2 separate regions of the Homo sapiens genome follow, and region 2 is linked to region 1. Evidence: fine-mapped expression QTL. Tissue or cell type: left ventricle. Region 1 holds a variant in brackets; the other region holds the start of a gene. All regions are shown on one strand. Distances are between the middles of the regions.

The links. PIP is the estimated chance that this variant, and not a neighbour inherited with it, causes the effect. A credible set is the group of variants that fine-mapping cannot tell apart.
Region 2: it holds the start of ZFAND1, and the variant in region 1 is the best candidate, but not a certain one, in a credible set for the expression of ZFAND1 in left ventricle (GTEx, PIP 0.74).

What each region holds. Positions count from the first base shown.
Region 1 is chr8:81,640,763-81,645,011 of GRCh38, reverse strand. No RefSeq gene overlaps it. Among named protein-coding and RNA genes, the nearest start is that of IMPA1, 43 kb to the left of the region's middle. The variant G/A (reference allele first, on the strand shown) is at 2,426.
Region 2 is chr8:81,719,466-81,723,714 of GRCh38, reverse strand. ZFAND1 (zinc finger AN1-type containing 1) reads left to right here and starts at 2,415. Exons shown (of 8, transcript NM_024699.3): 1 at 2,415-2,488. The coding sequence starts at 2,434. RefSeq lists enhancers at 2,460-2,509, 2,437-3,381 and silencers at 2,680-2,749, 2,780-2,919.

The DNA.
Region 1 (4,249 bases):
CACTATGGGAAAAGAGGTGATTGCAGAAGTGCAAAAGGATGAGATCAGAGGTAAAAGATCCTCCTTAGAGGATCTTAGTGTGGATCCATCCTCTTGAAGAAAGGCTTGTCAGGGAGGTTGTTATGTATAAAATAAAAATAGTGACTGAGGCTGGGCACGGTGGCTCATGCCTATAATCCCAGCACTTTGGGAGGCCGAGGTGGACAGATCACTTGAGGTCAGGAGTTCGAGACCTGGCCAACATGGTGAAACCACATCTCTACTAAAAATACAAAAAATTAGCTGACCATGGTGGCAGGTGCCCGTAATCCCAGCTACTCAGGAGGCTGAGGCAGGATAATTGCTTGAACTGGGAGGTGGAGCTTGCAGTGAGCCGAGATAGAGCCACTGCATTCCAGCCTGGGCAACAGAGACTCCATCATAAAAAAATAAAAAATAAAAAATAAAAGTGACTGAAAGCATTTAAACCCACCAGGAACTGATATCTTGACCTAAGATGTTGGTTATCAATTAAGAGCACAATTTGACTATGGAGAAAACAATCAGGTGACACGAAGGAAGAACTGCAAGGAATCAATTGGCAAATTTATCTTTCAAAACTCGTCATACAGAAAAGACTTAACAAGGAGAGGAGAACCACCCCTGTGATTGTAATAAAGTTTGGATGACAGGCTAGGCCTCCCGATTTGTGATATTTGGGATCACCCTGTTTGGTTTTATTTTTATAACTATTGTCCTGAAGTAACCTTTGTTCTGTTTCCTTCTTTTGGTTTGTTTTACTCTGTCCAGTGTAATAGGAGCAAGCATAGATAATTCCCCTTTAAAATATAAACCTAAATAATAGGTTAAGAGAGAGCCACCATAAAACCCATTCCTGCACCTAGTAATTTATCCTGCTTGTTCCAGCACTGGAAGTTGATCCTGTATTTTTACCTGGTGATTACCTGGGCAGGGCTACAACCTGAACAAACATTTATTCTAGCCAGAAAACACTTCAAATGGCAAGATGACTCTTTCAATATTTACTAATCTGCTATTAGCTTAAGCCAGTACACTCATAATGACTTTCAAACATACGAAGAAAGGTTAATAAATCTGAACGACAGCTATCGTACTCTTAAGTCACCAGGTTAGTGGCAAATAATGGTATAGAGCATATAATGATCAAGGAAATAACTACTATAAAATACATAACAAAATATTACCATGGAAATGAACCCATTTATACTGGCATGAGAGGCTACTCACAGCAGGTTTCTCAGCAAGTGAAAGGGAAGCTCAATTCTGTCCAGCTCCACTCTCCAGCCCAAGAGCATGAATGGCCCTTTAAGGGGAATACATTCCTTCATGGGTGAAGGCACTTTGGCTTCTCCCTGTTTTCTCTAGTGGTAAAACTCAGGAGAATTGGCAAAGGAGATTCTGCTTAAAGATTTTTTTTTGTTTTTTTTTTTTTTTTTGAGGTGGATGGAGTTTTGCTCTTGTTGCCCAGGCTGGAGTGCAATGGCGTGATCTCGGCTCACCGCAATCTCTGCCTCCTGGGTTCAAGCGATTCTCCTGCCTCAGCCTCCCGAGTACCTGGGATTACAGGCATGCACCCCCATGCCCAGCTAATTTTGTATTTTTAATAGAGATGGAGTTTCTCCATGTTGGTCAGGCTGGTCTCCAACTCCTGACCTCAGGTGATCCGCCCACCTCGGCCTCCCAAAGTACTGGGATTATAGGCATGAGCCACTGTGCCGGCCAAAGATTTTTAAATCTTCTAAATAATCAGATCTTGCTCATTTTAGACTCATTTTCTTTTCCTACTCTTTAAAAAAGTGGAACCGACATATAGCTCTGAAATAATTCAATTGAGCCATCCAGTAAGGGGTTGCTTCCTGTTTTCTGGACACTCATGCAGGCAGTAGAGACATTGGTGAGAAGGGCTTTGGTGTCAATTAGTCCAGAGTTCAGCTCTCTGCTCATTTATTTCATTATCCTTAAGTCATTTAACCAGATATTTCTGGAGAACCCAGTGGCAGGTTTCAGGTCCCAGGGTTATGGTGATGAACAAGTAGATACCGTCCCTGCCCTCATGGAGCATACACTTTAGCTGCAGGGGAAAAGTTTTTAAATACCGTAATAAAATTCAAAACAAGGCCACAAGTTTCGGATTTTCTGTGTGATCTTTGGCAAGTGTCTTAGCACCTGAGTTGTTGTCTTCTTCTTCTTCTTCTCCTTCTCCTTCCTCTCCCTCTTCTTCTCTCTTCTCTTTCCTCTTCTTCTTCTTCTTTTTTTTTTTTCCTGAGACAGAGTTTTGCTCCTGTGGCCCAGGCTGGAGTGCAATGACACAATCTTGGCTCACTGCAACCTCTGTCTCCCAAGTTCAAGTGATTCTCCCACCTCAGCCTCCCTAGTAGCCAGGATTACAGGCACCCGCCACCAC[G/A]CCCGGCAAATTTTTGTATTTTAGTAGAGACAGGGTTTCGCCATGTTAGCCAGGCTGGTCTCGAACTCCTGACCTCAGATGATCTGCCTGTCTCAGCCTCTCCAAATGCGGGGATTACAGGCGTGAGCTGTCGTGTCCAGCCTAAGCTCCTCAGTTTTTAAACAGGGTTCTTGGGCATTCGATTCAATAATAATTGCAAATAACTATGTGGTCTGGTATGTAGGAACCACACAATGATCATTATCTGATATTGTTTTAAATTTTACAATTACAGGATTTCAAATTGTTTTGTTCACTCACTGCTACATCCCAAGTGCATAGAGCTATGCCTGGCACATGGCAGGCATCCAATAAATATTTGTTGGCTGACTTTAAAGATGAAGAGAACCATGATGGCACAAAAAGACAATAACGGAGATGAAATTAAACCACAAGGAAAATTCATACACTACTTGATGGAGCCTTTGTAAATTTAACATAACAAAATGTTTCTTCTTCTTCTCCTCCTTCTTCTTCTTCGAGATTGTGGTCTCACTCTGTAGCCCAGGCTGGAGTGTAGTGGGTGATGGGATCATGGCTCACTGCAGCCTCAACCTTCTGAGCTCAAGCAATCCTCTCGTCTCAGCCTCCCAAGTAGCTGGGACTACTGGCATGTGCCACCACACCTGGCTAATTTTTTAATTTTTGGTATGGATCGGGTCTCACTATGTTGCCCAGGCTGGTCTGGAACTCCTAACCTCAAGCGACTCTCCTGCCTCAGCCTTCCAAAGTACTGAGATTATAGGCATGAGCCACCATGACTTGACTCATAGTGTTACATTTTTGGGGAAATCCAAGCTAGAAAACAGAATTAGTGCTCAGAAATTGAACTCATAACTAGCCCTAAGTGAAAAACTCAAATACTTTCTTCTCCATCTTCATCCACTAGAGGGCGTATATTACTTAACACAAGTCAGCCTTTCCCAAGCACGGCAGAAGCTGTTTTAAAATGATGATTAATGGAACAACGAGTAGACCTAATGACCTATCCTGTACATTTTGATTTAGGCAGATGGTTAAACTAAATGGTCTCAGATAAAAAATAAATAGTATCGAAAAGAAATGATGAAAATGTGATTCTTATATTTCCTCAAACTTTGTAATAGAAGAATAAACATTAAAGAAATTACATCAATTTCTTTTTTCAAACATTTATTTGTCATAGTCATTTTGTTTATATCCTAACTCAAGATAATTCAGTTAAAATGTACTTAAGAACAAAATCATGAATAATATTAACATATTTCGGGACATTACACCAGTAACGTGCCAGCAAGAGTATAGTTTTTCATTTGAAAGAAGCTTAGCAGGTGCCAAAGAATAATAAAAAATTAACTGTACAAAATGACATTTGTTTTAAGGGGATCATTATGTGATGATTTTACTTGGATCATATTTGTCAATCTAAACATTTATGATATGGCTGAAAAAAACTGAGGAATAAAAAAGTCCAAAACACCTATTTTAATTTGAAACTTGTTTCTAGAGATTGTTTTTTCCCCCTATTTTGGTAGTGGAGCTTTAATCAGTTAAACCATAAGATACCTCCTCTTTAGTCAGGCAGTTGTTTTATTCAATTCTGTGGGAGGAGGAAACAGTAAAATTCAAATTTCACTGGGGAACACTTTAGACTGAAAGAAAGGATTCTTCTCCTCTATTAAATATTTTACATCCTTAAAAATGAAATTGTGACTGGTCACCAGAATGGACACTTGCATTGAATAAATATGTCAGACTCTATATTGAATATTAAATAATTGTTTTGTCTCAGGCAAATGCTCATTT
Region 2 (4,249 bases), 79 kb before region 1:
ACAGAGACTAAGTTCTTTTTTTTTTTTTTTTTTTTTTGAGATGGAGTTTCTCTCTTGTTGCCCAGGCTGGAGTGCAATGGCTTTACCTCGGCTCATTGCAACCTCCTCAGGTTCAAGCGATTCTCGTGCCTCTGCCTCCTGAGTAGCTGGGAATTCAAGCACGTGCCACCACGCCTGGCTAATTTTTGTATTTTTAGTAGAAACGGGGTTTCTCAATGTTGGTCGGGCTGATCTTGAACTCCCGACCTCAGGTGATCCACCCGCCTCAGCCTCCCAAAGTGCTGGGATTACAGGTGTGAGCCACCGCGCCCGGCCTAAGAGACATTTCTGAGGGAGAATTGACAGTGTTTAATGGCTACTTCCATGAGAAGTAAGAAAGGAGAGGTGGAGAATAAATCCAAGATTGATTGATTGGTTGAATGAAACAAGTATGTGGCAGGCTGCCTTTGTTAGAAAGGGGATGATATGGTAGGAAATTATCCCATTTTGGGCTTAAGACACCATGACAAATGAATGCACATAGATAGATCTATCAGACAGTTGGAAATAGTTACTTCATGTTTGGTAAAGTGTTCTCAGGGCTGAGAATATGGGTATGAGAGTCTTTAATATGGAAGCCATGGGAATTTCACTTGCATGAGGATGTAAATTGATAAATGGACCAAAGACATAAACATAGTGAAATAGATGTGTTTAAGCAGCACCTAGAGAAGAAATCAGCAAAGGAGACTAAATAGAGAAAGCAGAGGTAGCAACTGCAATCTTGGCTACGCTAATCATCTGATGTTCTATGAGGTGTCCAATAACTGAAAAAATAAAAACATATCCATAATAATTGGACTGATAAAACATATATTTGCCACCTATCTAGAACATTCCAAACACCTAGTAAAATTCCAGGAAACCTGTTATTGATTGATCTGATCAACTTAAACATAAAATCTAGGTAAGCCACTGATCCCTAGATCCAAGAATACCAAAAGTCTTTAGTACTTGCATTTTTTGTCCTGGTTCATCCACTAATGTGAGCCAATCATTTAATGTCTATGAACTGGTTTTCTCATCTTAATAAAAGAAAAGCTATGGAGGCTGGGATAGCCAGATGACATCTTATAAAGTTTCTCCAGAGACTCAAGCAATTCTGAGACGGAAATCTTAAATAGATTGGCTCAAGAGCAAATGCAGAAGAAATGATTCCCCTTTCCTAGTGTCACCCTTCGCCCTTCCTCAGTGATTATTGATTGGGAATCTCCAAAGGTATATAGGAGGCATCGAATACTTTTCTAGTTCCTGTCAGGAGTGCAGGTGATTGTCACCCATCCACGCTGAATGGTGCCTGGCATCACGTTGGTGGAATGGCATTCATATGTACCCCACCCAGAAGTACCTCTCCTTCAGTACCTTTGCAGTGGCTCACCAGGCACCTGATACTCCCCTACATCCCAGTGGAATCCCATAAGCTTTCTTCAGGTAGTTGTGCTAAATGAGTCTGGGTTCTCTGAGGAACTCTGTAAGGTTCAGTACACATTCAGGGGCTCAGGAGTTAAGACTTTTTTTTTCCCCCTACCAGAATTTAAAAAAAAAAAAAAAAAGGACAAAGATAAAGAAATATTAACTTTTTAAAAAGCCTGATGACTGTTTTGCAAGGGGCATGTATGTTACACTACATAATCAAGTAACACTGGTTGAGGGATGGCTCAGGAATTGAATAACCCATGTCTGTCTCTTTTGCTTGATTATTGCAACACTGTGTGCCCGGCACTGTTCTGGTTCCTGGAGTTCTACTAACTTTTAAAAAAATAAATGTGAAGCCGTTGCTGATTTTCGTGGCCGTATGCAGGGAACCGCGGTAAGCAGTCGTCCAGAAAGGCAGGTGGGCATTTCTTTTTCATTTTCTTTTTTTATGTTTTGAGACGGAGTTTCGCTCTTCTTGCCCAGGCTGGAGTGCAATGGTCCAATTTTGGCTCACTGCGACCTCCGCCTCCCAGGTTCAAGCGTTTCTCCTGCCTCAGTCTCCCGAGTAGCTGGGATTACAGGCATGTGCCACCACGCCCGGCTAATTTTGCATTTTTAGTAGAGACGGGGGTTTCGCCACACTGGTCAGGCTGGTCTCGAACTCCTGACCTCAGGTGATCCGCCCGCCTCGGCCTCACAGGGTGCTGGGATTACAGGCGTGAGCCACCGCGCCCGGCTGCAGGTGGGTATTTCTTTAAGGACTAGGCGAGAGGCCTTCCGCTCCGAGAAGAACACTCACAGAACAGTGGCCTTTCCTGGTCACGGCGAATGCACCTAGGACAAATCGCACAGCTGGTTTCCAGGCCCCGCCCCCACCTGTAGACTCCGCCTCTGGGTCCGCCACTCTCCCGTCAGGCGCCGCGCGCGCTCATTGCCCCGCCCCTCAGGCTTTGCCCCGCCCCTTACGGCGCCGGAGAGATGGCGGAGTTGGACATCGGGCAGCACTGCCAGGTGGAGCATTGCCGGCAGCGAGGTGATCCGGGAGCTTCCAGCCCCCATCCCCGGCCGCGGGAGACCAGGGCTCCGCTTTGGCTCCGCGGATGGTGGCGGCGGGTGAAGGGAGGCCACAAGGCTGGGCAGGGCCTGAGGAGCGGGGTGGGAGCGTTTCTTCTGGGGCTGCAGTGAGATCGGTTGGTGCGGGTTTTTTTTGGCCGTGAGCTTTTGAAATGACGTGTGGTCTCCTTGGAAGGAAGCCATGCAATTCCTGAGGCAGGGCCTGAGGAGCGGGGTGGGAGCGTTTCTTCTGGGGCTGCAGTGAGATCGGTTGGTGCGGGTTTTTTTTGGCCGTGAGCTTTTGAAATGACGTGTGGTCTCCTTGGAAGGAAGCCATGCAATTCCTGAAAACGTACCTTGCAGTGTTCATTTTGGTGTTCGAGTGTGCCGTGTCCGAGCAGTGCACGAAGCCCACTGCTGGATCGCGTGGCTCACACTTACTCTGCTGAGCGCGGGTATGGGGACGCGTAGGTTTGGTCTGGGACTGTTGTCTTTTGGCTTTGCCACTGCGACCTACGGCCAGCTACTTTCCCATACTTTTTTTTACTTATCTGTTACGTAGCTGTCAGGAGGAGTTGGGGGAGGTCAACTCGCCCAACTAGTGTTCACGTGGATGTGTGTCCGGAAGAAGGCCCTTCCTTAGCTTTTATCAAATTCTCAAAGGCATCCTGATCCTCAGATTATTCCACCAAATGGTCATCATGCTCTCCCAGCTCTGTCATTCCCTGATTCTCATTATTATTGTTTGAACAAACATTTACAGATTATTGATTTTGGTGCTTGGACCACATAAGGGTGTAAACTACAGTCTTTTACACGGAAGACCTTTCCAACTAGTAAGCTGCATTTTAGAGAGAATTAGTTAATAATATGGCAATGGGCTCTCCCCATTGCACTGAGAGACCTTGGGATATACCTAGTCCAAGGTGATGTGGCATTGGCTTCAGGATGCCATACACCTTGAAAAGGCAAGTTTTTGAAGCATTAGAACCACACAGACTGCTCAGTCGTTGTTACTAGGTTTCACACACTACATAAGGTAGCAAACAGGTTTAATCTCCCCTTGGAACTTCAGTCATTGGTATCAAGTGCCTGAATTACCGTGTCAAAGACTCTTGAGATTTAGCCCAGTTTCAGTGGAGTTCCATAATTGATTAGTGATTTCTACTGTGGGAATGCGTGATAGGACAGGTGACACAATCCCTTCTAGGTTCTTGTTACTTATAGCCATCTATCTATCTATCTTTCACCACTGGCTGTAATAACAAGCCAGTGTGACTTTTTTCATGTGGAAGCTTAGCCATTTGGGTTTTGACTGTGAATTATGTGTGTCTATGCCTGATCCTTCGCTAGTGAGTCCAATACACATTATATGCCATTCATGACATAGTTCATTTTCCTTTCCAGCTATATATGTCTTTAGTGTCAATAACTGAGATGAGGCCAGGCCTATCTGTTTGGGACTAGTGGAAAGCAGTTAAGATTTAGACTACGTCAAGTGTATATCCTAAATTTTATCTACCTTCTGGAGGGATTGAAGGATGGTATCAGGTGCTGGGAAGTTGTCTTGACTTAACTCTTTCCCCTGGGTCCTTCTGGTTTGCATCTAATACTTGATTATTAAAAGTCGCAAAATATTAAGCATCTCCACCCAGTCACTGCAGTATTGTCCTTTTTTGTTTGTTTGTTTGTTTTGTTTTGAGATGGAGTCTGGCTCTGTCACCCAGGATGGAGTGCAGTG